4 linked regions of the Homo sapiens genome follow. The protein of the gene in region 4 interacts with the protein of the main gene of each other region in a pairwise test. Each region holds a gene or a part of one and is shown on either strand. Other genes may lie near its edges.

Region 1 (7,450 bases), on a different chromosome or scaffold from region 4:
GTGGCTGCATGGAGCCTCAGTTTCCCCCTTGGTAAGTGGGAGTAGTAATGGCCCCTGCCTCCTATGGTTACAAGTTAACAGAGAGAACGCCTTTCTGCACGTTTATTTCTATTTATTTTCGAGATGGAGTCTTGCTCTGTCACCCAGGCTGGAGTGCAGTGGCGCAATCTCAGGTCACTACAAGCTCGCCTCCCAGGCTCAAGTGATTCTCCTGCCTCAACCTCCTGAGTAGCTGAGCGTACCACCATGCCCAGCTGATTTTTGTATTTTTAGTAGAGACGGGGTTTCACCATGTTGGCCAGGCTGGTCTCAAACTCCTGACCTCAGGTGATCCGCCCGCCTTGGCCTCCCAAACTGCTGGGATTACAGGCGTGAGCCACCGCCATCAGCCTTTCTGCACATTTATTAAGTGCCTTCAGGCAACTATAACACAGTCCCAGCAAGGAGGGTGTTCAGAGAAAAACGTGTGTGTGTGTGTGTGTGTGTGTCCAGCTCAGCCCCAATCCTGAACCTGGCTCTGAAAAGAATGACTACGACAGCTGCATTTATTAAGCGCCTATTGTGTGCCAGGTTTTGTGCTTTTCCTGAATTATTCAACAGCCAAAACTGGGGGTGGGTGGGTGTTGCCCAAGGTCACACAGGGAACCTATGTGCTCCAGAGAGCTTGGACAGCCTTCTTCCTCCTCCCCTGGGGCTGCTATCTGCAGAGTGAGATAGAGGCCACTTCTGGACCAAAGGGCAGAGGCCCAAGTCCCCCCAGCCCCTCCCACCTGCTTTAGTCTTTATCCAAAAGCACCCAAGGTCAGGGGTAGGAGGAGTCCCCCAGCTGGTCCCAGGAGTGGCCTCCCAGTCACTGTCCCCTCTGAGTTTCTTCGTATGTTACCCAGGGGTGTGGGATTTGTCAATTTAAAGGAGGTGGGAGATGGGGATGAGGGACTGCCATCTCTCCCCGGGCCTGGCTCGTGGGGAGGAATGACTCTCCCAGGGCGTCCCTCCCCTAAATCCCTTTTCCTGCAGCTTCAGCGACGGGAGGATGACCTTGGACATCAGAACTGTGGAGGGAGGCCCAGCCCCCAAGATTAGCAGCAGATGGGACTGGGGGTGGGCAGGGTGGAGGACTGTATGCTTCAGACAGAACAGGCACAGAGGCAGCCCCTGCCTCCCTGTGCCTCAGTTTCGTCTCTGGTGACACGGTGCCCCAGGCAGCCCCTCCCTGCTGCCTGCCTCCTGGGCGCTCTACGACCTAAATTCCTGCCCACTAGCCCCAGGGATGTGGAAAGGGAGGGCAGAGGTCAGGGACCTGCTCCCGGGGGCAGGCACAGCCGGGCCATGCCCATGCCACCTGCTGCGCTGCACATGGGACCAGGCACCTGGGGACCTCCAGGGTGTGGGCACAGACTTCAGACTGTTCTGGCGCTGCCTGGCATGGGAACCCCCAGATGGTGGGAAAATTGGGGGGGAACTGGACTCCTGGGATCCACCTGCAGAAGGTGCTCAAAAAAGTGGCACTGTCCTCTACCCAGAATACCCCAGGCCCAGAGCAAGTCCTTGTGAGTCATTCTGCGGAGCTTCCTGGAAGAGAAGGCAGAGCCAGTGGGGCTGGGAGCACCACACAAACGGAAGAAAGGCTGGGTGCAGTGGCTTCCACCTGTAATCCCAGAGCTTTGGGAGGCTGAGGCAGGAGGATCGCTTGAGCCCAGAAGTTTAAGACTAGTCTGGGTAACATAGTGAGACCCTGTCTCTTAAAAAAGTTAATTTTAAAAAGTTTTAGGCCAGGCAAGGTGGCTCATGCCTGTAATCCCAGCAGTTTGGGAGGCCGAGGTGGGCAGATCACCTGAGGCCAGGAGTTCAAGACCAGCCTGGCCAACATGGTGAAACCCCGTTTCACCATGTTGAACGGCTAAAAATACAAAAGTTAGCCGGGCATGGTGGTGGGTACCTGTAATCCCAGCTACTTGGTAGACTGAGGCAGGAGAATCGCTTGAACCCAGGAGGTGGAGGTTGCAGTGAGCCAAGATCACACCACTGCACTCCAGCCTGGGCAGCAGAGCAAGACTCGGTCTCAAAAAAAAGTTTTAAAGGTGGGGAGGGAGGCATTTAAGGAGCGTTTACTACATGCTCTTGCTAGAGATTTGGAAAGGGGAAGGGGCGCGCAGCGTCACCAAGGGTGAAAGTCACGGAAGAACTGTAATGGAGTCACAATCGGGGTGCCTGGATCTCCGGCTCTGTGGGCCCCAGTCCAGCCTCCCCACATCACAGCCGTCAGACAACCCAACTCCGTCTTAACAAACATTTACGCTCGGTGGCACTAAGCCATTGAGCTGGGGGAAGGTGAGCTAGGGCAGGAGAGGAGGAGGAAAGGAGAAGGGTCCTGGGCAGGCCCCCAGGACGGTCCGTTCCCCTTCCCGCCAGGAGCCTCCCCTCAGAAAAACGGGAAGATCTCTACTGTTGCAGCCAGGCCGGGGTCCACGGGGGAAGGGGGACGGCGAAACGCGCAGGACACTGGCATCCCGACCCCTCTGGGGCCACTGGGCAACTGGAAGAACCGGACTTCGGCATGGCAGGCACCCAGCGCCCGGAAGGAGGCGTCGGGGGGCGGCCAGGGGCGGAAGCTAGAGAGGGGTGGCCCGGGAGCAGGGTCGCAGGGCGCGGGCAAGGGAAGGGCTGCGGGCGGACCTCGAGGTCCCAGTCACCTCGCGCGCTCCACCGGCCGGACCGGACCCCGTAGCCGGGGAAGGAGTCCGGTCTGCGACCCCCAGGCCCATGGCCTCGGTGTGCCCGTCGGCGAAACGGGCTAGCGCCGACGGCTCACCTGCAGCCAGATACCGCTTCTCCACCCCGGTCTTGGCCTCCAGCGCCCCCAGCACTTCGGTGACCAGGTTCCTTTGCTCCAGGAAGTGCTCCACGCGCTGCCTCAGGCCGTCCATGGCCCCGACGCGCCCGGGGTTGGCTGCTCGAGCTCGCCCGCGGACCAGGGCACCCACCCCGCTGCACGCGCACCGCTTTCCCGCAGCCTGAGCCGCGATGCTCCGGCCCCGCGCCGGTGTCCGCCCCCGGCCCCCCGCTAGGACCAATGGGAGGGCAGGGCGGACAAAGGAGGAGGGGCCTGCCCCGTCTCCCCCGCCGCATAGCCCTCCGCCACGGCCGCCGCTGCCCAGACCCCGCCGGGAGAGGGCGGGGCGCGGCGGCCCAGGGCACCGATTGGCCGGGCCGGAGCGAGACGTAGCTGATTGGAAGGGCGGTGTCAGAGGATGGGATTATTGGCTGAAGGGTGGAGCCAGGGCGAGGAGAGGCGTGGGGGGGCGGAACCGGGGGGAGGGGCTAAAGAAACATCCGAGCCGATTGGAGAAACGGGACGCGATTCATTGGCGAGACCAGTGGAGGGCGGGGCTGATCACAAAGGAGGCAGGGCGGAATGGTAGGGGCGGGAACGGGGCGAGGCTTATCGGAGGAGGCGGGATTACGCAAAAGAATGATTCTGATTAGGCCGGACAGGAGGCCGGGCTGATTCTCGAAGGAGGGGTGTGTTGGAAAGTGGGAGAGGTCAAACAAAGGGTAGGACGCGTTATCGCAACAGTGAACCCGCTTCTCTGGGTTAGTCTTGTCGTTGTACAAATGGGAAAACTGAGGCTCCCGAGGGTGTGGGTCTGCGGAAGACGGGCAGGCGTGCGTCCCTCTCCCGCTTCTGTTAGATCTTCGCGCCCCTCCTGGCTGAGTAGCCGCAAGGCCCCCTGGGAGTCGAAGCCTTCTGCGTTGCTATGGCGCCGGGGGCGGGTCGGACGCCTGGGCCCACTCGGCGGTTTGGCGGGAGGGAGGGGATTTGCGCAGGCCCCGCTCCCGCCCCGCCTCCATGCGGCCCGCCCCGATTGCGCTGTGGCTGCGCCTGGTCTTGGCCCTGGCCCTTGTCCGCCCCCGGGCTGTGGGGTGGGCCCCGGTCCGAGCCCCCATCTATGTCAGCAGCTGGGCCGTCCAGGTGTCCCAGGGTAACCGGGAGGTCGAGCGCCTGGCACGCAAATTCGGCTTCGTCAACCTGGGGCCGGTGGGTGGGACCGGGATAGACGGGAAGTGGGGGCTTGGAGGGGACTGAACAACCCTAGACCCCGACAAGGGGGAGGGAGCCCACAAGGTCTTCTAAATATCAAGAGTCCCAGCCCACCCCTGCCTCAGCCAAGCTCAGCTTCTGGGACTCCCAGAGAGCACCTGCTGGGGAAGGACAAAGAAGGGGGCTGTTACCGGCCCTCGGGGGCTTCAGCAGGGGAGCCGGGTCCCATCGGTGCGGCCGCTTCCCCACATCCCCAGATCTTCCCTGACGGGCAGTACTTTCACCTGCGGCACCGGGGCGTGGTCCAGCAGTCCCTGACCCCGCACTGGGGCCACCGCCTGCACCTGAAGAAAAACCCCAAGGTGAGCCTGGCCTGGAGGCCAACCCCCTGCCCGGGGTCTCAGCTGCCTCCTGGGGCCACCAGCCATCTTCTGTGGTTCTCGTGGTTGTTATGAACAGCTGTGTGCTTTCTGTGGCTCAGACCCGCCCGGGCCCCAAGTCTATACAGCAAGAGGAGGCAGGAAGACCCAGATACGGAAATCATGGCGCCTGCCAGGGCCTGGTACACAGTGGGCACCTCTTGTCCTCCCCCTCCCTCCTCTGGGCCCCAGGGGCTCTGGTAAGGAGGGACAGACGGCGTGACTTCCCCACCGTCTAGGTCATGGGATGGAGGGAAGGGGATTTTACGACACCGTAATGGGTTCCAAAGAGTAGGAGGCTTGGCCCGGCGCGGTGGCTCACGCCTGTAATCCCAGCACTTTGGGAGGCGGAGGCGGTCGGATCACAAGGTCAGGAAATCGAGACGAGATCCTAGCGAACACGGTGAAACCCTGTCTCTACTGAAAATACAAAAAAATTAGCCGGGCATGGTGGCAGGCGCCTGTAGTCCCAGCTATTCAGGAGGCTTAGGCAGGAGAATGGTGTGAACCCGGGAGGCGGAGCTTGCAGTGAGCCGAGATCGCGCCATTGCACTCCAGCCTGGGCGACAGAGCGAGACTCCGTCTCAAAAAAAAAAAAAAAAAAAGTAGGAGGCTTACAGTCACCCAGTGGCCCTCAGGACGCAGTGTCCAGGCGCTCAGAAAGGGGCCTGGGTCCCATCGGGCTGGGCCCTGTCTAGAAAATGCCTGGGATGTCAAGCTGAGGGGTTGGGATGGAGCCTGGGAAGCCCTCGGAGGCCAGGAAGTGCCTTGAACAGGACTGGACAGCTGCCTGCTTACAGCACCGGGAGGGAGAGCAGTGGCCAGTTCCTGATGTGGTTTGCAAGAGAGAAGCCAGGCCTGGCGTGGTGGTTCATGCCTGTAATCCCGGCACTTCGGGAGGCCAAGGCAGGCAGATCACTTAAGCTCAGGAGTTCGAGACCAGCCTGATCAACATGGCGAAACCCCATCTCTACTAAATGTACAAAAATTAGCCGGGCATGGTGGTGTGCGCCTGTAGTCCCAGCTACTTGGGAGGCTGAGGTAGGAGAATCGCTTGAACCCAGGAGGCAGAGGTTGCAGTGAGCCAAGATTGCGCCACTGCACCCCAGCCTGGGCGACAGAACAAGACTCTGTCTCAAAAAAAGAAAAAAAATAAGGAAGTGATGCAGGAGAGAGATAGAAGGATCTAGAACAGGGATGGGGGAGAGAGTGGGGTGGGGACCCGGGGACCTGCAGTCACCCGCGGCAGCAACGACGCGTCTGTGGGCCCAAGGACAGGTGGTCCAAAAGCCTCGACCCCTTCCGACTGCAGACAGAGCCCCAGGCACATGGGGACCCTGGAGAGCAACCCCCACAAACACAGGGTCCCAGGGCACGGGGCTGCCTCACTCCCTGAACCACGAGGGGCCCCAGGGGCGAGCAGGGGACAGGCCTGATGCACCCTCTGCTCTGCAGGTGCAGTGGTTCCAGCAGCAGACGCTGCAGCGGCGGGTGAAACGCTCTGTCGTGGTGCCCACGGACCCCTGGTTCTCCAAGCAGTGGTACATGGTGAGCAGGCAGCCAGGGTGGGTAGACGGGGACGGGGCCGCTGGCGCCCTCAACTCCAGGCCCTCACAGGGTCACAACCCCGCCTCCCCCTGCAGAACAGCGAGGCCCAACCAGACCTGAGCATCCTGCAGGCCTGGAGTCAGGGGCTGTCAGGCCAGGGCATCGTGGTCTCTGTGCTGGACGATGGCATCGAGAAGGACCACCCGGACCTCTGGGCCAACTACGTGAGACCGCGGGTGGCTGTGGGCGAGGGCTGCCCCAGGTGCCGAGGCTGGCACCACCCTAGGGACGCCTCCCGGCCCCCTCATATCCCCACCTGCCCCCAGGACCCCCTGGCCAGCTATGACTTCAATGACTACGACCCGGACCCCCAGCCCCGCTACACCCCCAGCAAAGAGAACCGGTGAGCAGGGCTCCCACAGCACACGGGGGAAGCCCCAGTACCCGGCAGGGGGATGGAGGCCGTGACAGGAGCCCCTCTTGGCCCTGGCACCAGGCACGGGACCCGCTGTGCTGGGGAGGTGGCCGCGATGGCCAACAATGGCTTCTGTGGTGTGGGGGTCGCTTTCAACGCCCGAATCGGAGGTACCCGGGGTCCCCCAGCGGCACCATTCCGGGACAGAGAGGGAAGGGGGTGACTCTGGCGGGGAGCTGGGCCCAAGGACTCGGGAGCCCACCCTCTCACTGCTGGGTGGTGCTAGGGCCCCAGACTCCAGGGCTTGGGGGGTGCTGAGCCAATACGAATGGTCCCACTCCAGGGAGCAGAGAGAGGGCCCAGGTAGGGCTGGGGAGTGGTGTGGAGTGGCGCGGGGCGGGCTGGGGTGTGGGGAAGGGCAGGGCCGGTGGCAGCGGCCCTCCCGCCCTGGCTCTGCAGGCGTACGGATGCTGGACGGTACCATCACCGATGTCATCGAGGCCCAGTCGCTGAGCCTGCAGCCGCAGCACATCCACATTTACAGCGCCAGCTGGGGTCCCGAGGACGACGGCCGCACGGTGGACGGCCCCGGCATCCTCACCCGCGAGGCCTTCCGGCGTGGTGTGACCAAGGTGAGTGGCAGCCCGAGGAGGGCAGGGGTGGCAGGCCAGGCCGACGCCCCCTCCCCGCCCCTCCTGGTTTCCCAGGGCCGCGGCGGGCTGGGCACGCTCTTCATCTGGGCCTCGGGCAACGGCGGCCTGCACTACGACAACTGCAACTGCGACGGCTACACCAACAGCATCCACACGCTTTCCGTGGGCAGCACCACCCAGCAGGGCCGCGTGCCCTGGTACAGCGAAGCCTGCGCCTCCACCCTCACCACCACCTACAGCAGCGGCGTGGCCACCGACCCCCAGATCGTGAGTGCAGCCGCCCCAACAGGGTCCCCTCCCCAGGCCCTGCCATCCCAGCCTGGCCTCCTCCTGTCCCCACCACTGTGACTTAGCACCCTCCCAAAGCTGCTTT
Region 2 (7,030 bases), on a different chromosome or scaffold from region 4:
GAACATCTGCTGCATATCTGAGAAAAGGGAAGGAAGATTGGATCTGTGCCACCCGGGTCTGCAGTCTCAAACCTTGAGATCCAGAATAAGGGAAGGGAAGGAGACTAACAAATGGTCCAGAAAATAAAATGAGGACAAACAGTCTGTTAGAACAAAGCTGTATTTTTCTTTATTGCAGAGCCCACATGACTGGGCAAGTCGGGTGGTAATGTCTACAACCAGCAAGGGCTGGATGCAGGGGGAGGCAGGTGGTGACCAGCCAGTGGCAAGAGTACTTCCCAGAGCTTGGACACTCCCTCTGGTGCCTGACTCTCCATGTGGGACCCGGTTTCTCACACATTTCTTAAGCATTTATGGGGCAGCTGCTATGAGGCAATTTTGTTCTGAGTACTCTGGAGGCAGAGATGAATAAGACATAATCCCTGTGCTTAAAGAGCTAGCCTAAAATGGGGAAGATAGACAAATGAACAACAGATCACAACATCACAATGAAAAATTCTACATCCTATGAAAAATTCTATATCCTAGGTAGGGAAGAAATGTCACAAAAATACATAGAAGTGGAAAGATGTATTCCTAATCCTATGAAGAGAAGTGGTGGTTCAAGGAAAGGAACATCTGTACAGAGACAGTGTTACAAGCTGAGTCTGGAAGGATAAGTAGGAATATTAGAAAACAAGGTTTTTTTCCTCCTTATCAATGAGGGGTAGTATAAAACAGCAAACCTTCATAATTGACTCAAAAAATTTAATCCTCCAAACCTTAAACCCACCCACCACCCCTCTCAATTTCAAGGCATCAACATTTATATCAAAGAAATGTATCAACCAACTGGGTTCTGCCACTTTTCAATGTTACCTACAGAGTCACTAGTAAGGTTATCAAACTCTCATCAGAGTGAGATAAGAGGGTTAGCCTAATCATAACTTTCTGATTTGCTATGGTGGAGCAATGATGAGTGGCCAGTTGTCTGACTTTAACTTTTCTTAATTATCTAACTTTAACATCATCAAAATATTTGTATGTAAGATCACAATAGCAAATGCAATAAATTCTTAGAGTTAGGAGTGTATCTGCAAACTATCAGGTATGAATGAACCTCTACTCCACCATAAGGGATACAGAAATAAAAGACATGACCTTTCTGTCAAAGAAGCTGAAACCTAATTGCAATGACTGGAATGTTTAAAATGACTAACTATAATTTTTTAATCTCTTTTCTATAATTCTGACATGGCAAATATTTAACATTTAAATGAGAAAAGAGTAAGGACAATGCTATGCTTTATTGCTCAGTAAATGTTTGCTTTCTTCATTTTTCAATGCAGTCTACAAATAAGTATAAAACTTTTTATCATTTGCTTTATATTAGTCATAGTATATACTGAGATGCGAAAATAGTTGGTATAATCCCTGACTTTGCAATTATATTTTATCTTCATTTTAATAAATTTTATTTTTTAAAATATCCATTGGTGATATGGAAATAACTGTGGGAAAAGACTCAAACACACCTTTTTTTCTATCATCACATTTTCTTTCAACCTCAAAGAAAAGCCTTCCTCAATTTTAAAAACTCATTCAGAGAGAATTTTTTGAAGTTTTTTTTTAACCAATAAATAGCAAGCTATGAGATCAAATTAAATATTTGGAATATTTTTAGCTTGATTTAACTCACCCAAAACTCTTAAGATTATTATAAGCATGTAATGGTTATGTTTAGTTTACGGTTAGTTTCTTAAATGGAGTTTAAAGACATTGCAATTTTTAATTTTTAAATAGGACTATTATATATGGTAGATGTATTGGTCAGGGTTCTCTAGAGGGACAGAAATAATAGGATAGATGTTTATATGAAGGGAGTTTATTAAGGATAATTGATTCACACCACATGATCACACAGTAAAGTCCCACATAGGCCCTCTGCAAGTTGAGGAGCAAGGAAGCCAGTGGTGGATCAGTCTGAGTCCCAAAACCTCAGAAGTAGGGAAGCCAACAGTCCAGCCTTCAGTCTGTGGCCAAAGGCCTGACAGCCCCTGGCAAACTACTGGTGTAAGTCCAAGAGTCCAAAAGCCAAAGAACTTGGAGTCTGATATTTGAGGGCAGAAAGCATCCAGCACAGAAGAAAGATGAAGGCCAGAAGACTCAGCAAGTCTGCTCTTCCATCTTCTCCTGCCTGCTTTATTCTAGCCATTCTGGCAGCTGTAGTAGTTGGTACCCACCCAGATTGAGGGTGGGTCTGCCCCTCCTAGTCCACTGACTCAAATGTTAATCTCCTTTGGCAACACCCTCACAGACACACCCAAGGACGATACTTTGCATCCTTCAATCCAATCAAGTTTACACTCAATATTAACCATCTCAGTAGATAAGAAAATTTCCTGTGTTGTTCACCTGTAATGAATGAGCTTAAAAAGAGGCTGATGATTGAAACTTTTTACTATTTCAAATTGAGAAAGAAATGAGATTTTCTATGCTATTACATTATTCTTCTATTAGAAAAACTTCCAAAGTAAACTATATCAGGAGGCCATAGTCCAATTCTTCCTAAATTAAAGTTGATAGAAGCACAGAATATTTTTGAGTTGGAATGTATGCCAGAGTTACTTAGTGATTTATAAGTGGGAAAACTGAGAACCAGGAAGGTTAGATACCTAAATCTTACTTGTTTGGGTTTATAACTATGCCCTAAGCTTCTTCAGCATATCAGGATCCGTGGTATTGTGTTATCACCCTCAGTCGTTTTGTGTTTTGTCTTTTCAGCCATAAAAAAATTTTGTTTAGGGACAGAGACAAATAAATCTTTTCCTTGGCTGAACTTGAATGTACCATTTCCACTCAAGATTCTAGAAAATCAGATTTCACTGGCTGGTCCCATGATCTGAAAGAGTGGCCCTGTCACCATCTTATTCCACACCAACCTGGTTTTTGTTGTTGGTTCTCCCTGAGACTTTAGGGAGACAAGCACAGCAGGTGGTACCATCCACAGCTCACCCATCTACCTTGAGTAAGCTTGGCAAGTACACTTATTCAGTCTGCAGTGACCTCTGCAGTGACCCTGGGGCTGTTTCAGTGAATGCTGCTTTTGTGGCTCAGGTGTTGTCCTAGAAGTTAATTGTCAATGAGCCTCAGGTAAAGTTACTGAAGGAAAGACATAAGCAGATTTAGTAAACCATTTAAATACTCCAATCCTAACATTTTCTGAATTTTAAATAACTACACATAATTTTCTTTGTCTTCAGCATAATACGGATCAAGCATAATAAATACATCAAGAGTGAATTAAGCCAATTGCTGAAACATGGTTGCATTTTGTTGGTAATAGTGAAAATATATGATGGCGTGGTCAACATTCAAATGAGACATAGAACAAACCCTGAGTTAGTCACATTCTGATCTTCCCCCTCCGCCACCGGATATTTATTTTTTCTTTTCTACAGATGTCTATTTTGCAACTCTGCTGGTTTTGTCCTTTTTCTTAATCTTGAGGCAGGTATATTGGGAGGCAAGATATTCCAGTCATTTCTGCAGCTTTTTTATTCATCTCCTGGTGGGTGGATGAGAGTGATGCTGTAGCCTCCAGGGCTCGACAGATCTTTTCCCTTCTCTCCACCCTCTCTCTCTAGGATCAATCTGGGATTGATGGGTACATGGTAAAAGAAAAAAAAAAAATCCTGGGTATTTTTTTCTACCATACTTCTAATTGCATTTGTTTTGTCACCCTTAGGACTACCAAGAAGCCTCCAATTTGGAACAATTCGTAACTAGATTTTTATTGAAGGAAACCCTGAATCAGCTGCAGTCTCTCCAGAATTCCCTGGAATGTGCCATGGAAACTACTGAGGAGCAAACCCGTCAAGAAAGGCAATTTACATGTTTTCATCTGATGTCTATTTAGTGACTCTATGTTCATGAAAAAACAATTGAGAGGCATTGTACTTACACTAGCAAAAACTAAAAAAGAGAATTGATATATTTAAAAAGAATGACAGTGACCTCCACTGGTTGCTTGCCTTATTATTTGCCTCTAAAAAGACCATTCTACTTTTTCTTTTACTGTCAGTCATTTAGTAAACTATATATATATATATATATATATATATATATGTGTGTGTGTGCGTGTATATATATGTCTGTGTGTATATATATACACACACACACATATATGTGTATGTGTGTATATATATACACACACACATATGTGTGTGTGTGTATATATATACATATATGTGTGTGTGTATATATATATATTTCTTTTTTTTTGAGATGGAGTCTCACTTTGTCACCCAGGCTTGAGTGCAGTGGCACGATCTTGGCTCACTGCAAACTCTGCCTCCCGGGTTCAAGCAATTCTTGTGCCTCAGCCTCCCAAATAGGTGGGATTACAGGCACACACCACCACGTCCAGCTAATTTATTGTATTTTTTAGAAGAGACGGGGTTTCACTATGTTGATCAGGCTGGTCTTGAACTCCTAACCTCAGATGATCCACCCATCTTGGCCTCCCAAAGTGCTGGGATTACAGGTGTAAGCCACTGAGCCCAGCTGAGTCAACAAATTTTAATTGAAAATTTAGTAGATGGAGAAGACTTTAAAGTATTATGAATAATATAAAGATACATTTAACATAATGTCAATCCTTAAGGAAGCCTAAGTCTATCATATAAATAAGACATGAACACAAAAACTATACTGCAAAGAACAAAGTGATAATAAATACCGTAGAGAAGAGGAAATACATTGCCAATTGTTTTCAGAATATTAAAAGATTAAATATGGATAGAGGGATGGAAGGATGAGAAAGTCAATTTCATGGAGTTTCTCTATTTGAGCTTGTCTTGCAAAATCAAGAGATCAGTGAAAAAGCCTGGTGGGAAGACAAGACTTGAACTGGACCTGTAGGATGAATTTGAATGGCAGAATGAGAGTCTCTCTAGAGGGATCCGTCTCACCCACCTCCTGTTACCCACCTCTCATGTGGCTCACTTCTCTTTGGTTGTCTGGTCACTGATTGGACAGTAATTTCTCTGGGAAGCCTTCACTGCTCATTCATACCTCCCACTTCACTACCGTGTATTCCTATAGTGCCCCCTATTTATATCTACTTATCTCAACCCCTTCCTTGTTAATTTGGTGTAATTTTGAAAATGTGGAAATGATGGGAAAGACCCTTACAGACTACATGAACCTGGATATACTTGGGAGACCTGATAATTCAGTAAGCCTAATTATTTCAGGAAATGGAGAAAAGTGAATGATGGAAATTATTTCAAAATTCAATGCCACCAATAGGTATCACTGAGAAAATAAGTAGTCATATTGCAATAGCTATATAAATAAAGGCACTAATGCTTAAGAGACACCTATACTAAAAATGTGTAGGGCACACATCAAGGTGATCCCAGCCAACAGTTGATATTTTTCTGAGTTGTCATTGCTTATACTTTGCAAGCTAGAGAAGCTTGCAAAACTCTTGCTCCTGGGGCATATTTTGGCAGATGTGTTACTTTAAACTTATAGATGTGCTTTATCTAACTTTTACATCTTAAATTAGAGAGAAGGAAACAGTAAGTTTTCTGAACAGGCTGATAATAGACTACCCTGCAGGACCAATTTTCCTGAACAAATTAACTGATACATAATTATTAGGACATCTCCAAAATAGTGGAATTTTCAACCATGTGTTTACAATGTCAAAATGAGTGAGCACCACCAACTTCTAACAAAAAATCCTGTAATTCCAGAATCTAATGAGCCCATGCAGCTGACTGTCACAGGGAAGTACTCTTTAGCAGATCTGTGAAGCATCCTCTACATCATAAACTTCCTGTTTTCACTGCGTTGGGTGATTCTATACCAAATGGCAAAGTATAACAATTCACTTTAGAAAAGCAAAACCCACCTCCTCAGCTTTGAGCAGAGGATAACTGAATGTCTTGAAGCACAGTGAAATGGATTTCATGTTCCTAATGAGAAAAATGAGGCCTCCTGTGTTGTTTCTTTTGTTTGGACTTTCTGGAAATAAAATGGGAACTCCCTTTTTAGAATCAGTCATCTGCCACCTGAGAAGAGGCTTGAAAAAGTGCTCTACTCCCCTTCTTCACCTGCGCTTTTGTTTTTTTCTACAGTCATCCCCTGAAAACCTGTGCTCTGCATTTACCACCATGCTGTGAATGTTTAATGAACAACTGTTTTCTGTGTTAGGCCACAGGCTAGCCTTGAACTCTTGTGACTGCTGCCAGCAGCTGCCTAGCAGCTGTGCTTAATGAGAAGGAGCATGACAATATAGACTTTAAGGAAAGTAGAAGGCACTAGAGGATTAACGAACCTTTTACTTCTGGATTTCTCACTCAAAAACAGCTTCAAATAATGGGAAATGTTACATGTCTGACTGCAGTTTAAGGGGTGCTGTTGTATGGCATTTGACTAAGACACCCAGGAATGACAAAATCCCACCCCAAATCTGTGATATTCCCCCTGAGAGGTTTATAAAGAAATGCATAAACAAGCAAACAGAAAATAAGGTACCACTATGGATTTATGCCCGTAATATCTGATGAACCAGACTGAAGCACGTGAATTATGCCCAAACCTAAAGGGACTGTGTCTCCTCTCCCAAGGCTATATCTTCCTATCAGCTGGCCACCAAAAGTGAGGAGAGCCCTGGGACCTTCATCAGTGAGGAAAAGATAGAGAGAGAAAAACTATACCTTTCCTATGATGTCAATCAAGAGACCAGTGAAAACGCCTGATGGGAAGACAAGACTTGAAGTGGAACTTTAGGATGAATTTTAATGGCAGAATGAGATTCTCTCTAGAGGGATCCGTCTCACCCATCTCATGTTACCCATCTCTCATCTGGCTCACTTCTCCTCGTCTGTCTTGTCACTGATTGGACAGTACTTTCTCTGGGAAGCCTTCACTGCTCATTTATACTTCCCACCTCATTACCATGTATTCCCATAGTGCCCTCTATTTATATCTACTTATCTCAGCCCCTTCCTTGTTTATCTCCCCCATTAGACATTGA
Region 3 (7,521 bases), on a different chromosome or scaffold from region 4:
ATTACAAGCACCTGCCATCATGCCTGGCTAATTTTCGTATTTTTGTAGAGACAGAGTTTCACCATGTTGGCCAGGCTAGTCCTGAACTCCTGACTTCAGGTGATCCGCCCGCCTGGTTCTCCCAAAGTGCTGGGAATACAGACATGAGCCACCACACCCGGCCAAAACTATTATTTAAAAGGCAGTAGAATATACAACACAAAACCTAGGATAATTACCTTTGGAGCAGGCATGCAACAGGATAGAGAAGATGTAACATATTGGAATATTCTAGTTAAGTTGGTTTGGTGTTGATTTATTGCTATGCTTTATATAATATATGTTAGAATATATACAATATAACATATAATATATATGTTAGAATATATAATACACACTGTTTGAAAGAATTAATTTTCATTTAATGCAGTGCTCAACTAAAAATAAAATCTTTCTCCACATTTGTGTGGAAGAGTAGGAAAGCCTGTCTTGCAGTAAGATGGATTAAAACAAGCCAGTTTTGTACAGTGACTTTTGTGGGTGACTCAGTCCCACCTCTGCAATCAAGTTTCTCATCTATGGTGGCTGAGCCTCACCAGGAGCCTAAAATGCATAAAACTTTCCTTTAATGCCTCTTTGGGCTGTCTCTGGTATAACCAAAGAAAGCACAGCTCCCTCATCTATGCAGTGACAAGTTTGGGTAAAGCATTTTTTGAAAAAAAAACTATCTCTTTTAGATTTTTTTTCAATCATTTTAAACGTCATTTATACCAATTATCCCACTTTTATTACCATTGTAAAAATAATATATGATTTTATGTAGCATTTATCTGCAATGTATATGAAGGTGTTTTTATAGTTGTTACTTCAAATGAATGACAAATTATTTATAATAACAAAAACATGGAAACAATCCAAATGGCCAGTCATCAGCAGGTAATAGAAGAAGACGTAGCCCTTAAGTACTATGTCTCTGAAGAGTGTATAATAGCACAGAAGATGTCAAAATTATTAAATGAAAAAGCATAATAGCTTGTATAATGAGTATATTACAGCCAAATGAAACCTATGTTTTAAAACAAACCGAAAATAGATACCCAACATGTTAAGAGTGGTTATCGCTGTGTGATGTCTTATCTTTCTAAATTTTCTAAAATGACAATGCCTTGCTTTTATAATGGAATGAAAGCCCATTCAACTTTAACCTTCTTGAAATGGAACTGATTGGCTAGATTGACTTTGGGGAATTGGAAGCAGCAAATGGAGATGTTCTTCACAAGGCCAGGCAGTAACTCACTGGCAGCGCCAGAATTAGTGTTGACAGTCCCTGTGTTTCTGGGTTGTTTTCACTCTGAATCCAGCTGGCTCCCTAACTGTACTCACCCCTCCCCTGACACATACACATACACACACACAGATTAATGAAATAAGACAAGCTCCCCCTGAAAAAGTCACCTCAGCCCCTTATTTTCCTCAAGTGGTGGTGAGCCATATGCCCCAGTTCACACCCTTTTCCCTGAAGGTCTTAGTGGGCAGGAAGACAAGAGAATGTGAATACTAATCAAGTTATCTGTGGGAAGCAGTGCCCTTTCCCAGGGTGGTCAGTGCAGCCAGCCAACCACAAAGCCTAGGTTATCAGACTCAAACCACATAGATGTCAAGCAGGTCACCCCAACCTTGATCTCAGAAAATATTGACAATTTAATGTAATCACCATGTAGGTTTGTTTAAAATGAAGATTTATTACTAATTTAAAAGCTTGGTAGTCTAGTGTGGCCAAGGTCGTGAGGAAGCGGGAATGTAAATTTAATAGAGCCTGTTTGGAGAGCCTATAAAACTGAAAACATCACATCCTACGGCCCAGCAATTCCTCTTCTAGTCCTGTGCCCTGGAGAACAATCGAACATATGTACAGGTAGACACGATCAAGGATTTTCATTTTATTTCATGAAAAATTAAAAACTACCAATTGTCTCTCAATAGGGGAATGGATAAATAAAATGTCATATATTTATAGGATGAAATATTTAAAATTAAGATTGATGATTCATATGGCATATGAATCTATATGGATAGCTCTATAAAGGAAATAGATCTTTGGAATTTAAAAGAAGTATCTATAGATTTAAAGTTCCTGCAAGGATAGACATCAAAAACGTGTTGTTTAGGGAAAAGAGTGAGTTCTAAAATGACATCTGAAGTATGACACCATTTCTGTAAAAAAAAAAAAAAAACCAGACAGACTACAGCCATCCATCTTGTTAAGTGCAGATATATGTATGTAATAGCACAGGAACATTCTAGAAGGAAATACATTGAAATAATAGCAGGGGTAATATCTGAGGAAAGACAGAGGGGACTGGGATTGGGTGATACTCAGATTTTTCAAGGGAAAGTGGATTCCTGGGTTATTCATAATTATAAATATACAAATAGTTCATAATTTTTAAAGTCTCAGCAATTACTTTATCTGGTAATGTATTTATAATAAAAAGAAAGCTAAAAATATAGAGCTTTCTGTCGGAAAATGTTTCCCACAGCACCACACCCACCTTTCCACTCCCAGCACACCCTCTCAGCCAAGTTGGCCAGTATTGGGAGAAAGTGCCCCCGAAGCCTTTGCTCACCTTCACCACCCTTCTAGGAGCCACAGCAAATCACACTGGCAATGATCCCTTGCAGAAAAATTTGTGCCAGAAAAATTAGCTCTCAGAAGTGCCATTTTGTTGAAAAAAGAGCACATGAATTTTATCCCTTCCCCTGATGATTTTTGAGAGCAAAGTATTTTAGAGTTTGGCCCCAGCCAAACTAACAGGAGAGAAGGCAACTCCCCACATTTCATACCTGTCAAAAACCACTGCGGAATAAGCCCGCTCAGCAAAGATGATATCTGCAGCCCAGAACTCCTTGGTGGCCTTCAGACCCCTTCCTTTGCCCTCAGCGGTGAAGACCTCCACGTTCTCCATTCTCCCTATTGTCATCTCAGAGACTGTCAGGCCAGCGCGGCAGTTATTTAACACTGAGCCAAGTCTCTTGTCATTGCTATTTCAGCACCTTCAGCATCCCAAAGAGCAAGACTATAAATGGACAAGCCACCTCCCCTTCCCTACTCGCTCTCAGCTACTGGGCCCTCACCTCCCCCTCTGCTACTTTTCCTGGAGGTGGGGATGGGACAGACAAGAGAACAAGTGAACTGGGAAGAGTTTCATTCATCACCCAGCAAAGCCGACAGAACAGAAAATGACCATGGGTTAATATGGCATAGGGCCTGAAAAGTTTTGAGAGGTTCCATTGCAAGCAGAAGCTATCTGTATGTGCTAAGTTCTGAACTGCAACAATCCTGTTCGGCTTTAGTTGGAGTAGGGAACATTTGGTCAGGAGGGTATTTTTAGCAGCCAGATGCCTCTGTCAATCAAAAGCAGACAGCTGGAATGGTCCCATAGAAACAAGGTGATATTTGCTGCTCTGGGACCCTTCAGCTGTCAGGCTTGCACTTTCTCAAGTGAGATGGGCCCTCGCCCCACCCTTTTCAGTCTCTCTCCCAAGGGTGGACTGTTTAGCAGCAGAAGCTAAACTGAGGGCTGGGCACGGTGGCTCACGCCTGTAATCCCCACCTTGGGAGGCCGAGGCACATGGATCATCTGAGGTCAGGAGTTCAAGACCAGCCTGACCAACATGGTGAAACCCCGTCTCTACCAAAAATACAAAAATTAGCTGGGCGTGGTGGCGGGCGCCTGTAATCCCAGCTACTGAGGAGGCTGAGGCAGGAGAATTGCTTGAACCTGGGAGGCAGAGGTTGCAGTGAGCCGAGATCGCGCCATTGCACTCCAGCCTGGGCGACAGAGTGGGACCCCGTCTCAACAAAAAATTAATAAATAAATAAATAAATAAATAAATAAATAATAAGAAGAAGCTAAACTGAGCCCTTGGCATATACGTAACAGTACTATTTAGGCTCCAAGGGGGCATTTTTCCTCTCCAGTATCACCTGGGGCTCTTACAGCACCCCCTACTCCACAGCATGGAATTCCCTGTTCTTAGCACTGCTGGTGATGCTGGTATGCTGGAGGCAGGCTGGATACAGACAAGGCAGGCTATAAAAATAGCAACCCCCATCTCTATCTTTCTATCAAATTTCCTTTAACATGTGTCTGCTGCCAGGAAAATACCAACGTGCTCTGTCCTTCTTCTTACTCAGGAGTGAGGACACTGGAAAGACGAATCTAAAATCCCCGTTGAACTAAATGCCACTGTTCTTGGCTATCAGGCAGCTTTTACTGAGGTTTAAAAGAAATACACTTGCAGATCTGGAGCTCTGGCTTGACTTCCATGTAAGATTTTTAGTTCCTGGGATGCATCTATTTCCTGGTGGGGGTTGGGGGTGGGGGTGACGGCGGGGGTGGGGGGCAGTGGGCAGGGGCATTTCCTGGATTTTTCTGAGTGTATGGTTTCTGAGTCAGATGAATCTGAGTTTGAATTCTAAGCCTGCTACTACCACTTGAGATGGAACCTGTGAAACAAGGGTGATAATTTCTACCTCACTGGATTGTGAGAGTTAGATAATATGTAAAAGGGGATAACACAGCACTTAGCACTTCATAAAGTACTCATTAAGTGATAGCTATTCTATTTTATTTACTCTGTCACATTATCCTCCCTAAACTATCACGATGTACCAGAAATTTTAACATGTCTTCAACCAATTGAATCTCCCAAAACACCTTCGACTCTTGGAAGCATGTTGAAAGTTCATTGTCTGATCATATATCCTGATTTTTAGGTAAGAATACATAGCCATGACAGCAAGAGAATATCTCTGCAGCTTCTGATGTACACTGAAGAGCAAAATAACTTAAGACATGTAAAGTTAGGTGCCTCAAAAAGTAAACACTGCATGCTCCCAAGGGGAAAAACAATTCTACAAAACAGAGAGTTAAAAAAAGAGAAAGAGGCCGGGCACAGTGGCTCACGCCTGTAATCCCAGCACTTTGGGAGGCGAGGCAGGTGGATCACAAGGTCAGGAGATCGAGACCATCCTGGCTAACACGGTGAAACTCCGTCTCTACTAAAAATACAAAAAATTAGCTGGGCGTGGTGGCCGGCGCCTGTGGTCCCAGCTACTGGGAGGCTGAGGCAGGAGAATGGCGTAAACCGGGGAGGCAGAGCTTGCAGTGAGCCAAGATCACGCCACTGCACTCCAGCCTGGGCAACAGAGCAAGACTCCGTCTCAAAAAAAAAAAAAAAAAAAAAAAGAGAAAGAAGGCCAGGCGCAGTGGCTCATGCCTGTAATCCCAGCACTTTGGGAGGCCGAGGCGGGTGAATCACTTGAGCCCAGGGGTTTGAGACTAGCCTGGGCAACATGGTGAAACCCTGTCTCTACCAAAAATACAAAAAATAAACCAGGCATGGTGGCGCATGCCTGTAGTCTCATCTACTCAGGAGGCTGAGGTGGGAGGACCACTTGAGCTCATGAGGCAGAGGTTGCAGGGAGCCATGATCATGCCACTGCATTCCAGCCTGGGTGACAGAGCAAGATCTTGTCTCAGAAAAAAAAGAGGGAAGGGGGGGGGGGGAGGGGAGGGGAGGGGGGGAGGGGAGGGGAGGGGGGAGGGGAGGGGAGGGGGGGAGGGGAGGGGAGGGGAGGGGAGGGGAGGAGTAGCAGAGCAAGCTCTTGTCTCAGGAAAAAAGAGGGAAGGGGAGGGGAAGGGAGGGGAAGGGAGGGAAGGGAAGGGAGGGGAGGGGAGGGAAGGGAAGGAAAGCGAAGTGAAGGGGAGGGGAGGGGTTTTCAGGAAAGGAGAGGAGAGGAGAGGAAATATTAAAAAGGTTTTTTCCCTGTAATCCCAGCACTTTGAGAGGCCAAGGCAGGCAGATCACGAGGCCAGGAGATTGAAACCATCCTGCCTAACATGGTGAAACCGCGTCTCTACTAAAAATACAAAAATTAGCTGGGCGTAGTGGCACACGCCTGTAGTCCCAGCTACTCAGGAGGCTGAGGCAGGAGAATCACTTGAACCCAGGAGGCGGAGGTTGCAGTGAGCCGAGATCATGCCACTGCACTCTAGCCTGGGTGACAGAGCGATACTCCATCTCAAAAAAAAAAAAAAAAAAAGGTTTTTTTCAATCCAGGTTGACTCCCAATGAATACCCTGTATCCACATTGCCTGGCAACTCAGGGTCTTGCAATAACTTGTCTGCCCTCAGGGGCCAGGGGCTCAGCCTGGCTCAGATGAGCTTGTTCCCTAGACTAGGCACTCTTGGAGCAGGTTCAGCCCAAGCCACGGACAAGGAAGAAATTTACCAGCCCCAAGACCATATGGAGAGAGGAAGCCCAGGACTTTAATTATACCTGTGGGCCTCAACCTTATCAGAACAATGGTTATTATATTATTAAAGGGTGGTAGACAGAATAACAGGCCCCAAAGATGTGCAGATTCTAATGCTTAGATCTGTGAATATGTTACCTTATATGGCAAAAGGGACTTTGTGAATGTGATCAAGTTAAGGATCTTGAGATGAGAAGATTATCCTAGATTATCCTGGTAGGACCAATGTAATCATGAGGATCCTTATAGGAGGAAGGCAGGAGGGCCAGGGTCAGAGGAGATGCGACAATGCAACCAAGAGGGTCAGAGTCAGAGAGATATTGAAGGGGCTGTGTTGCTGACTTTAAAGATGGAAGAAGCGGCCATGAGCCAAGAAACTGGAAAAGGCCAGGGAACAGATTCTTACCCTAGAACCTCCAGAGGGAACACAGCCCTGCGGACCTTGATTTCAGCCATGTAAAGTCCATTTCTGGCTTCTGACCACCAGAACTGTAAGATAATAAATTTATGTTCTTTAAAGTCTCTAAATTTGTCATATTTTGTCACAGCAGCAATAGTAAATATAGTAAATATTTACTATATTAGTCTCATTATAGTAAATATTATGTAACATGCTTTTTGTTACTTTAAAGTGAAATTCTTACATAATATAATTTATTCGTTCTTATACCTAAGAAAAATGACTAGTCTAATCTAACAAAGGTGAAAGAAAATCAAAGTTAATTTGTAGTAATATCTATTTATTGTAAATTAAATGTGTAAATGTGCTCACTATGCATATGCTTGGGTACAACTATATTAGAAGATGAGATAAAATGGCTAGATGTTTGTACCTCTAAGTGGAATCACTATGATAGTGAGAACAAAAATGCAGATTGATTTTGAGGACACAAATACCATATTGTTGCCTGTGACCATAATTTTCTGAAATGGTGAGCGACTCTTAGGGGAGTTCTAAACAAAATAAAGTTTGATCTTTCTTTGGTTAACAAGAAGTTGCATTGCTGGAAAATTCAGCATATATTAAAACTTTACAAAAACTACTTTACGATTACTTACAAAATGGATTTCCAGACTCAGACAATCATAAACTGGCTTTTTGCCTACCTGAAGAGCACATACAGATATTTGAGGCTGTGCGGGGTGGGCAGAGAGTCTTCATTGTACCAGGCTGTCCCCTGCTTCTCAGGGGATCTAGCATCTCTGGCCAGGATTAAGG
Region 4 (7,030 bases):
AGGTAAATTGGAAAGGGAAATTAAACCTTATTGTTTCTCTCTTAAGAGAGAAGGGGGTGCAGGCGGCAGCCAGGGTGGATGCTGTTGGAATAGTTGTAGAAGTAACAAGATTAGTGCTGTATTTTAACAGAAGGTGACATCATGGGCCCCATTGGACTTGAGTAACCCCGTGCTGCAGCCTTCATGGTCCCCTTGTCGGAGTGGGTGATGTCGCTATACACGTGAACTGCCACATTGGGGAAAATCAGGGGCTGAGGCTTTAATGAATCTTTACAAAGGAGCAGAACGCATCCTGAGTCGACCTGTGCAGCTGTGGGGTGCTTGGACAGAAGTACAAACCGGATGGCATGTCAGGAGAGGAAGTAATTAGAACAATTGGCTCGGGTTCCAGAGTATGGATTGGATAAGGGGAAGGTCCCAACTGGGCAACCCACTCAGGTGCTCCTTGGAGTGCTCTAGCTCTATGATTCACCTGTGGGGAGTTGACTGGTTGTTAGTGAGACTGGGAGAAATGCAGAAGCATTGGTGTTTGTGGGGACTTGGTTGTCTCTAAACAGCCGGGAGGGGGTGCTGTTAGGCTCGCTTTCAAAGCTGTGATCTGGCAGGGCGTGGTGGCTCCCGCCTGTAATCCCAGCACTTTGGGAGGCCGAGGAGGGCGGATCACTTGAGGTCAGGAGTTCGAGACCAGCCTGACCAACATGGAGAAACCCCGTCTCTACTAAAAATACAAAATTAGCTGGGTGTGGTGGCACGTGCCTGTAATCCCAGCTACTCGGGAGACTGAGGCAGGAGAATTGCTTGAACCCAGGAGGCAGAGGTTGTGGTGAGCCGAGATTGTGCCATTGCACTCCAGCCTGGGCAACAAGAGTGAAACTCTGCCTCAAAAAAAAAAAAAAAATGCTGTGATGTGAGTGCTCACCAGACCCTGTTGTGCCTGCATTCTTCAAGGCAAAAGTTTTACATCTGGACCCGCCTGTTCTGGCTGCGTGTGACAAACTTTCTGTAGACTCCAACACGCTTTGGGGAGAGGTGGCCTAGTTGAGGGCCTGGTCTGAGAAGGGAGGCAAATCCCCCAGGGCCTTTTAGCTTGGCATTGAGCTAATGGGGATTTTTTTTTTGCTTCCTCTTAAGTTTTACAAGAACAAAAAGTGTTGCCTGGGTTTCCCCACGGGGGTCTATTAAAAACTTTCGGGGTTTTCCCTGGTAAAGAATGATAAGAACAGAGGCATACTAACCTTGATCCTGTATCCTCTGTCCCTCATCAGATGTTTCCTTCCAATGGGCTTTTGGTGTAGGATGTCGGAGAACCAAGAACAGGAGGTAAGAGTATGGTCTGCAGAGAACAGGTGGGTAAAAGTTGGAGAGGGGATTTAGGAGGAAAGAGGACATAGAGATGCAAATCATTAATTATTACCTGCAGTATTACTTTGGTGGTTCTGATGAGCTCAGAATAAAGTCAGGAGAAAGAAATCAACAGCAGAGGCATTCCTAGGAAATTGGGGTTCCATTCTGACTAAATTTTCCTTTGATTGGAATATACTGGAATGTAAGCTTCATGGGGGCAGGCACTTACGTCTCTTGTTCATGCTTTATCCCCAGTGCCTATAACAGTGTCTGACACGTAGTGGGGCTCAGTAAAAATTTGTTGAATTGAGTGACTGAATTGAGTGAATGAAAGTTGAATTGAATAAATGAAAGTTGGTGTTGAGTGAATGAAAGTTGGTGTTGGGTGGAAAAATCTAGCGACCTGTGTTGTCAGAGCTGCCTTGCTGTGTAGCTGAAGCTGAGGGAGCTTTTCTTACCTACAGGAGGTGATTACAGTGCGTGTTCAGGACCCCCGAGTGCAGAATGAGGGCTCCTGGAACTCTTATGTGGATTATAAGATATTCCTCCATGTGAGTACATCAAGCTTCTGTATTGGGGTCAGCGCTCTGCAGGGCTGAGGGGCTTGTACTGAGGTGTAACCTTTTTTTTTTTTTTTTGAGATGGAGTTTTGCTCTTGTTGCCCAGGCTGGAGTGCAGTGGTGTGATCTCGGCTTACTGCAACCTCCGCCTCCCAGGTTCAAGTGATTCTCCTGCCTCAGCCTCCCAAGTAGCTGGGATTACAGGCATGTGCCACCACGCCCAGCTAATTTTGAATATATATTTTTTTAGTAGAGATGGGGTTTCATCATGTTGGCCAGGCTGGTTTTGAACTCCTGACCTCAAGTGATCCACCCTCCTTGGCCTCCCAAAGTGCTGGGATTATAGGCGTGAGCCACCGTGCAGGTCAAGGTGTAACCTATTTTTGAGTGTTTCTGGTGGACCCGAGACAGAAGACTTAGAAGAAAGGGAGGGAGGAAAGGAAAGAGAGCTTGAGGTATGTCTTTGAGTTGCTTTTGGGCTGCCTGGTGGCACCTTGTTCTAGTTGGGGACCTGATCAGGTCTGTGGCCTGATGGCATGGCTCCTCAGTGAAAGCAATGATAGGGAGCTCATGTGAACTTGTCTATTTCCACTAAACCCTTTTCATGTACTTCATGTGCTTTCATGTATAGACCAACAGCAAAGCCTTTACTGCCAAGACTTCCTGTGTGCGGCGCCGCTACCGTGAGTTCGTGTGGCTGAGAAAGCAGCTACAGAGAAATGCTGGTTTGGTGTGAGTTTGCTCTTGCTTCCTTCTTGGGTCTGTGACTGGCTTTTTGGGTGCTTATGTAGGAACTGGAGTTGACAATGAAGAGAACTTGCAACATACCAGGCACTAAGGAAATTGGGAAATATGTTGTTTCTTTTTTTGTTTTTTGGGTTTTTTTTTTTTTTTGATGTAGGGTCTTGCTTTGTTACAGAGGCTGGAGTGCAGTGGTGCAATCATGGCTCACTGCAGCCTCAACCTCCTGGGTTCTAGCAATCCTCCCACCTCAGCTTCCCAAGTGGCTGGGACTACAGGTGCATGCCACCACACTTGCCTAATTTGGAAAATATTTTTGTAGAGATGGAGGTCTCCCTATGTTACTAGGGTGGTCTTGAACTCCTGGGCTCAAGCAGTCCTCCTGCCTTGGCCTTCCAAATTGTTGGGATTACAGGTGTGAGCCACCAGGCCCGGCTGGGAAATAATGTTTTTTTTTTTTTTGAGATGGAGTCTTGCTCTGTTGCCCAGGCTGGAGTGCAGTGGCATGATCTCATCTCACTGCAACCTCCACCTCCCAGGTTGAAGCAATTCTCTCTGCCTCAGCCTCCCAAGTAGCTGGGATTACAGGTGCCCACCACTATGCCTGCCTAATTTTTGTATTTTTAGTAGAGGTGGGGTTTGTCCATGTTGGCCAGGCTGGTCTCAAATTCCTGGACTCAAGTGATCCACCTGTCTCGGCCTCCCAAAGTGCTGGGATTACAGGCGTGAGCCACCACTCCTGGCTGGGAAATATGTTCTTTTTTTTTTTTTTTTGAGACTGAGTTTTGCTCTTGTTGCCTGGGTGCGATCTCGGCTCACCGCAACCTCCACCTCCCGGGTTCAAGAGGTTCTCCTGCCTCAGCCTCCTGAGTAGCTGGGATTACAGGCATGCGCCACCACTCCTGGCTAATTTTGTATTTTTAGTAGAGATGGGGTTTCTCCATGTTGGTCAGGCTGGTCTCGAACTCCTAACCTCAGGTGATCTGCCTGCCTTAGCCTCCCAAAGTTGCTAGGATTATAGGCGTGAGGCACCATGCCCAGGCCTTCTTTTTTTTTTTTTTTTTTGAGATGGAGTCTCGCTCTGTCGCCCAGGCTGGAGTGCAGTGGTACAATCTCGGCTTACTGCAACCTCCGCCTCCCGGGTTCAAGCAGTTCTCTGCCTCAGCCTCCCGAGTAGCTGGAATTACAGGGGGTTACCACCATGCCCAGCTAATGTTTTGTATTTTTAGTGGAGGTGGGGTTTTACCATCTTGGCCAGGCTGGGTTTTTTTTGCTTTTTTTTTTTTTTTTTGAGACAGAGTTTCACTTTGTTGCCCAGGCTGGAGTGCAGTGACACCCTCCACCTCCCAGGCTCAAGCAATTTTTGTGCCTCAGCCTTCCGAGTAGCTGGGATTACAGGCGCCTGCCACCACGCCTGGCTGACTATTTTGTATTTTAGTAGAGATGAGGTTTTACCACGTTGCCCAGGCTGGTGTCGAACTCCTGAGCTCAGGCAATCCACCCATCTCCACCTCCCAAAGTGCTAGGATTACAGGTGTGAGCCACTGCGCCCAGCCTGGGCAGGCTGGTCTTAAACTGACCTCATGATCCACCTGCCTTGGCCTTCCAAAGTGCTGGGATTACAGACGTGAGCCACCATGCTCCGCCTTTTTTCTTTTTTTTTTTTTTTGAGACGGAGTCTCACTCTGTTGCCCAGGCTGGAGTACAATGGTGTGATCTCGGCTCACTGCTACCTCAGCCTCCTGGGTTCAAGCGATTCTCCTGCCTCAGCTTCCCGAGTAGCTGGGATTACAGGTCCCTACCCCCACGCCCAGCTAATTTTTGTGTTTTTAGTAGTGACAGGGTTTTACCATGCTAGCCAGGCTGGTCTCGAACTCCCAACCTCAGGCAATCCGCCTGCCTCGGCCTCCCAAAGTGCTGGGATTACAGGCGTGAGCCACCGCACCCGGCCAGATATATGTTCTTAAATCATATTTTCAAGTCAGTGAAAAAAGTAGAATCTAATTTCGAGTATTTTTACCTAACAAAGCCATACTAACATCAAAAATATTTTTCTTTCTTTATATGCATATATGTCTAGAGCTCAACAAATATACAGCTAACATTTTAAACAGTTTAAATCTGCTTATCAGAAAATTTTAAGCACCTGGACTTATTTGACAGCTAGTGTTTCCATCCACTTCACATGTAAAAATAATGATTTTTTTTTCTCTTTTAATACAGAGGTCCTTTTCCAGAGACATATGAGAGCCTAGGGAAGGCAGTTATTATTTACTCCTCACACCCACCTGCCAAATAAGTCCTGAAAGTGGAGAGAATTACAACAGTGATTTTGCTGTAGGATGGTCACTGAATACTCAGTGGTGATAGGTGGCCTGTTGAGTGACCAAGTCAGTTAGTTAACATGTGGAACTGATGAGGCTGTTGTCCTGGGGCAGGCCCTAATAAACCAGGTGAAACTCCGTTCCCCTGACAAATCCTATATCCTCCAGCCTGGCCTGTTTTTTTTTTGTTTTGTTTTTCTTTTTCTTTCTTTTTTTTTTTTTTTGAGACAGAGCTTAGCTAAGTGAGCCTCTGCCGGTCGCGGTGGCTCACGCCCAGCACTTTGGGAGGCTGAGGCAGGTGGATCATGAGGTCAGGAGTTCAAGACCAGCCTGGCCAAGATGGTGAAACCCCATCTCTACTAAAAATACAAAAAACTAGCCGGGTGTGGTGGCAGGTGCCTGTAATCCCAGCTACTCAGGAGGCTGAGGCAGAGAATTGCTTGAACCTGGGAGGCAGAGGTTGCAGTGAGCTGAGATTGTGCCACTGCACTCCAGCCTGGTGACAGAGCGAGACTGTCTCAAAAACAACAACAACAACTACAAAAAAATGTGAGCCTCAGCAGCCTCAAACGCCTGGGGTCAAGGGATTCTCCCACTTCAGCCTCCCAAGTAGCTGGGACTACAGGTATGTGCCACCATGCTCAGCTAATTTTTGTATTTTTTGTAGAGAAAGGTCTCACTTTGTTGCCCAGGCTGGTCTCTCAAACTCCTTGGCCTCAAGTGATCCTCCTACCTCAGTCTCCCAAGTTGTTGGGATTACAGTTGTGAGCCACTGCGTCCCACTCCAGTTTCTTCCTTTTTAAAAATAATAGTTGATGGTGGGTGTGGATTTCTTTTTTCCTTTTTTTTTTTTTTTCTGAGGCGGAGTCTCGCTCTGTCACCCAGGCTAGAGTGTAGTGGTGCAATCTCGGCTCACTGCAACTCCCAGGTTCAAGGGATTCTTCTGCCTCAGCCTCCTGAGCAGTTGGGATTACAGGTGTACACCACCACGGCTGGCTAATTTTTGTATTTTTAGTAGAGTCGGGGTTTCACCATTTTGGTCAGGCTGGTCTCCAACTCCTGACCTCATGATCTACGTGCCTTGTCCTCCCAAAGTGCTGCTATTACAGGTGTGAGCCACTGCGCCCGGCCTTTTTTTTTTTTTTGAGATGGAGTCTTGCTCCTGTCTCATCCTGCAGGCTGGAGTGTTTGCAGTGGCACGATCTCGGCTCACTGCAACCTCCACCTCACAGGTTCAAGTGATTCTCCTTCCTCAGCCTCCTGAGTAGCTGGGATTACAGGGGTGCACCACCATGCCCTACTAATTTTCTTTTCTTTTCTCTTTTTTGTTTTTTTTTGAGATGGAGTTTCGCTCTTGTTGCCCAGGCTGGAGTGCAATGGCTTGATCTCAGCTCACCACAACCTCCGCCTCCCAGGTTTAAGTGATTCCCCTGCCTCAGCCTCCCGAGTAGCTGGGGATTACAGGCATGTGCCACCACGCCTGGCTAATTATGTATTTTTATTTTTATTTATTTATTTATTTAATTTTTTTTTTTTTGAGACAGAGTTTCACTCTTGTTGCCCAGGCTGGAGTGCAAGGGTACAATCTCAGCTCACTGCAAGCTCCGCCTCCCAGGTTCACGCCATTCTCCTGCCTCAGCCTCCCGAGTAGTTGGGACTACAGGCGCCCGCCACCACGCCCGGCTAGTTTTTTCTATTTTTTAGTTGAGATGGGGTTTCACCGTGTTAGCCAGGATGGTCTCGATTTTCTGACCTCGTGATCCCCACCCACCTCGGCCTCCCAAAGTGCTGGGATTACAGGCGTGAGCCACCGCGCCTGGCTGTTTTTTTTTTTTAAAGGAGAGATGAGGTTTCACCATGTCGCCCAAGCTGGTCTTGAACTCCTGAGCTCAAGTGATCTGCCCACCTCGGCCTCCCAAAGTGCCAGGATTACAGGCATGAACCATGGCACCAAGCTGGGAGTGGGTTTCATAAACAACATAGTGTGGCTCGGCTTGGTGGCTCACACATGTAATTCCAGTGCTTTGGGAGGTTAAGGAAGGAGGATCACTTGAGGCCAGG

The links.
Region 1: the proteins of SNX11 (region 4) and REEP6 interact in binary tests that used the Homo sapiens proteins (3 or more experiments, as listed by UniProt).
Region 2: the proteins of SNX11 (region 4) and NECAB1 interact in binary tests that used the Homo sapiens proteins (3 or more experiments, as listed by UniProt).
Region 3: the proteins of SNX11 (region 4) and SMYD1 interact in binary tests that used the Homo sapiens proteins (3 or more experiments, as listed by UniProt).

Annotation. Positions count from the first base shown.
Region 1 is NC_000019.10:1,486,747-1,494,196, reverse strand, and holds the start of REEP6 (receptor expression-enhancing protein 6), read right to left. Parts: upstream 3,017-7,450; 5' UTR 2,928-3,016; coding exon 2,813-2,927; intron 1-2,812. Other genes in the region: PCSK4 (proprotein convertase subtilisin/kexin type 4), read left to right, coding at 3,851-4,039, 4,300-4,404, 4,524-4,604, 5,917-6,009, 6,105-6,233, 6,336-6,412, 6,506-6,594, 6,884-7,056 and 1 more. UniProt on the Homo sapiens protein: Required for correct function and survival of retinal photoreceptors. Required for retinal development.
Region 2 is NC_000008.11:90,913,765-90,920,794, forward strand, and holds part of NECAB1 (N-terminal EF-hand calcium-binding protein 1), read left to right. Parts: intron 1-3,727; coding exon 3,728-3,864; intron 3,865-7,030.
Region 3 is NC_000002.12:88,063,304-88,070,824, reverse strand, and holds the start of SMYD1 (histone-lysine N-methyltransferase SMYD1), read right to left. Parts: upstream 3,001-7,521; 5' UTR 2,961-3,000; coding exon 2,824-2,960; intron 1-2,823. UniProt on the Homo sapiens protein: Methylates histone H3 at 'Lys-4' (H3K4me), seems able to perform both mono-, di-, and trimethylation. Acts as a transcriptional repressor. Essential for cardiomyocyte differentiation and cardiac morphogenesis.
Region 4 is NC_000017.11:48,110,766-48,117,795, forward strand, and holds part of SNX11 (sorting nexin-11), read left to right. Parts: exon of another isoform or gene 1-2; intron 3-1,265; 5' UTR 1,266-1,278; coding exon 1,279-1,320; exon of another isoform or gene 1,321-1,328; coding exon of another isoform or gene 1,329-1,346; intron 1,347-1,808; coding exon 1,809-1,895; intron 1,896-2,535; coding exon 2,536-2,636; intron 2,637-7,030. UniProt on the Homo sapiens protein: Phosphoinositide-binding protein involved in protein sorting and membrane trafficking in endosomes. Regulates the levels of TRPV3 by promoting its trafficking from the cell membrane to lysosome for degradation.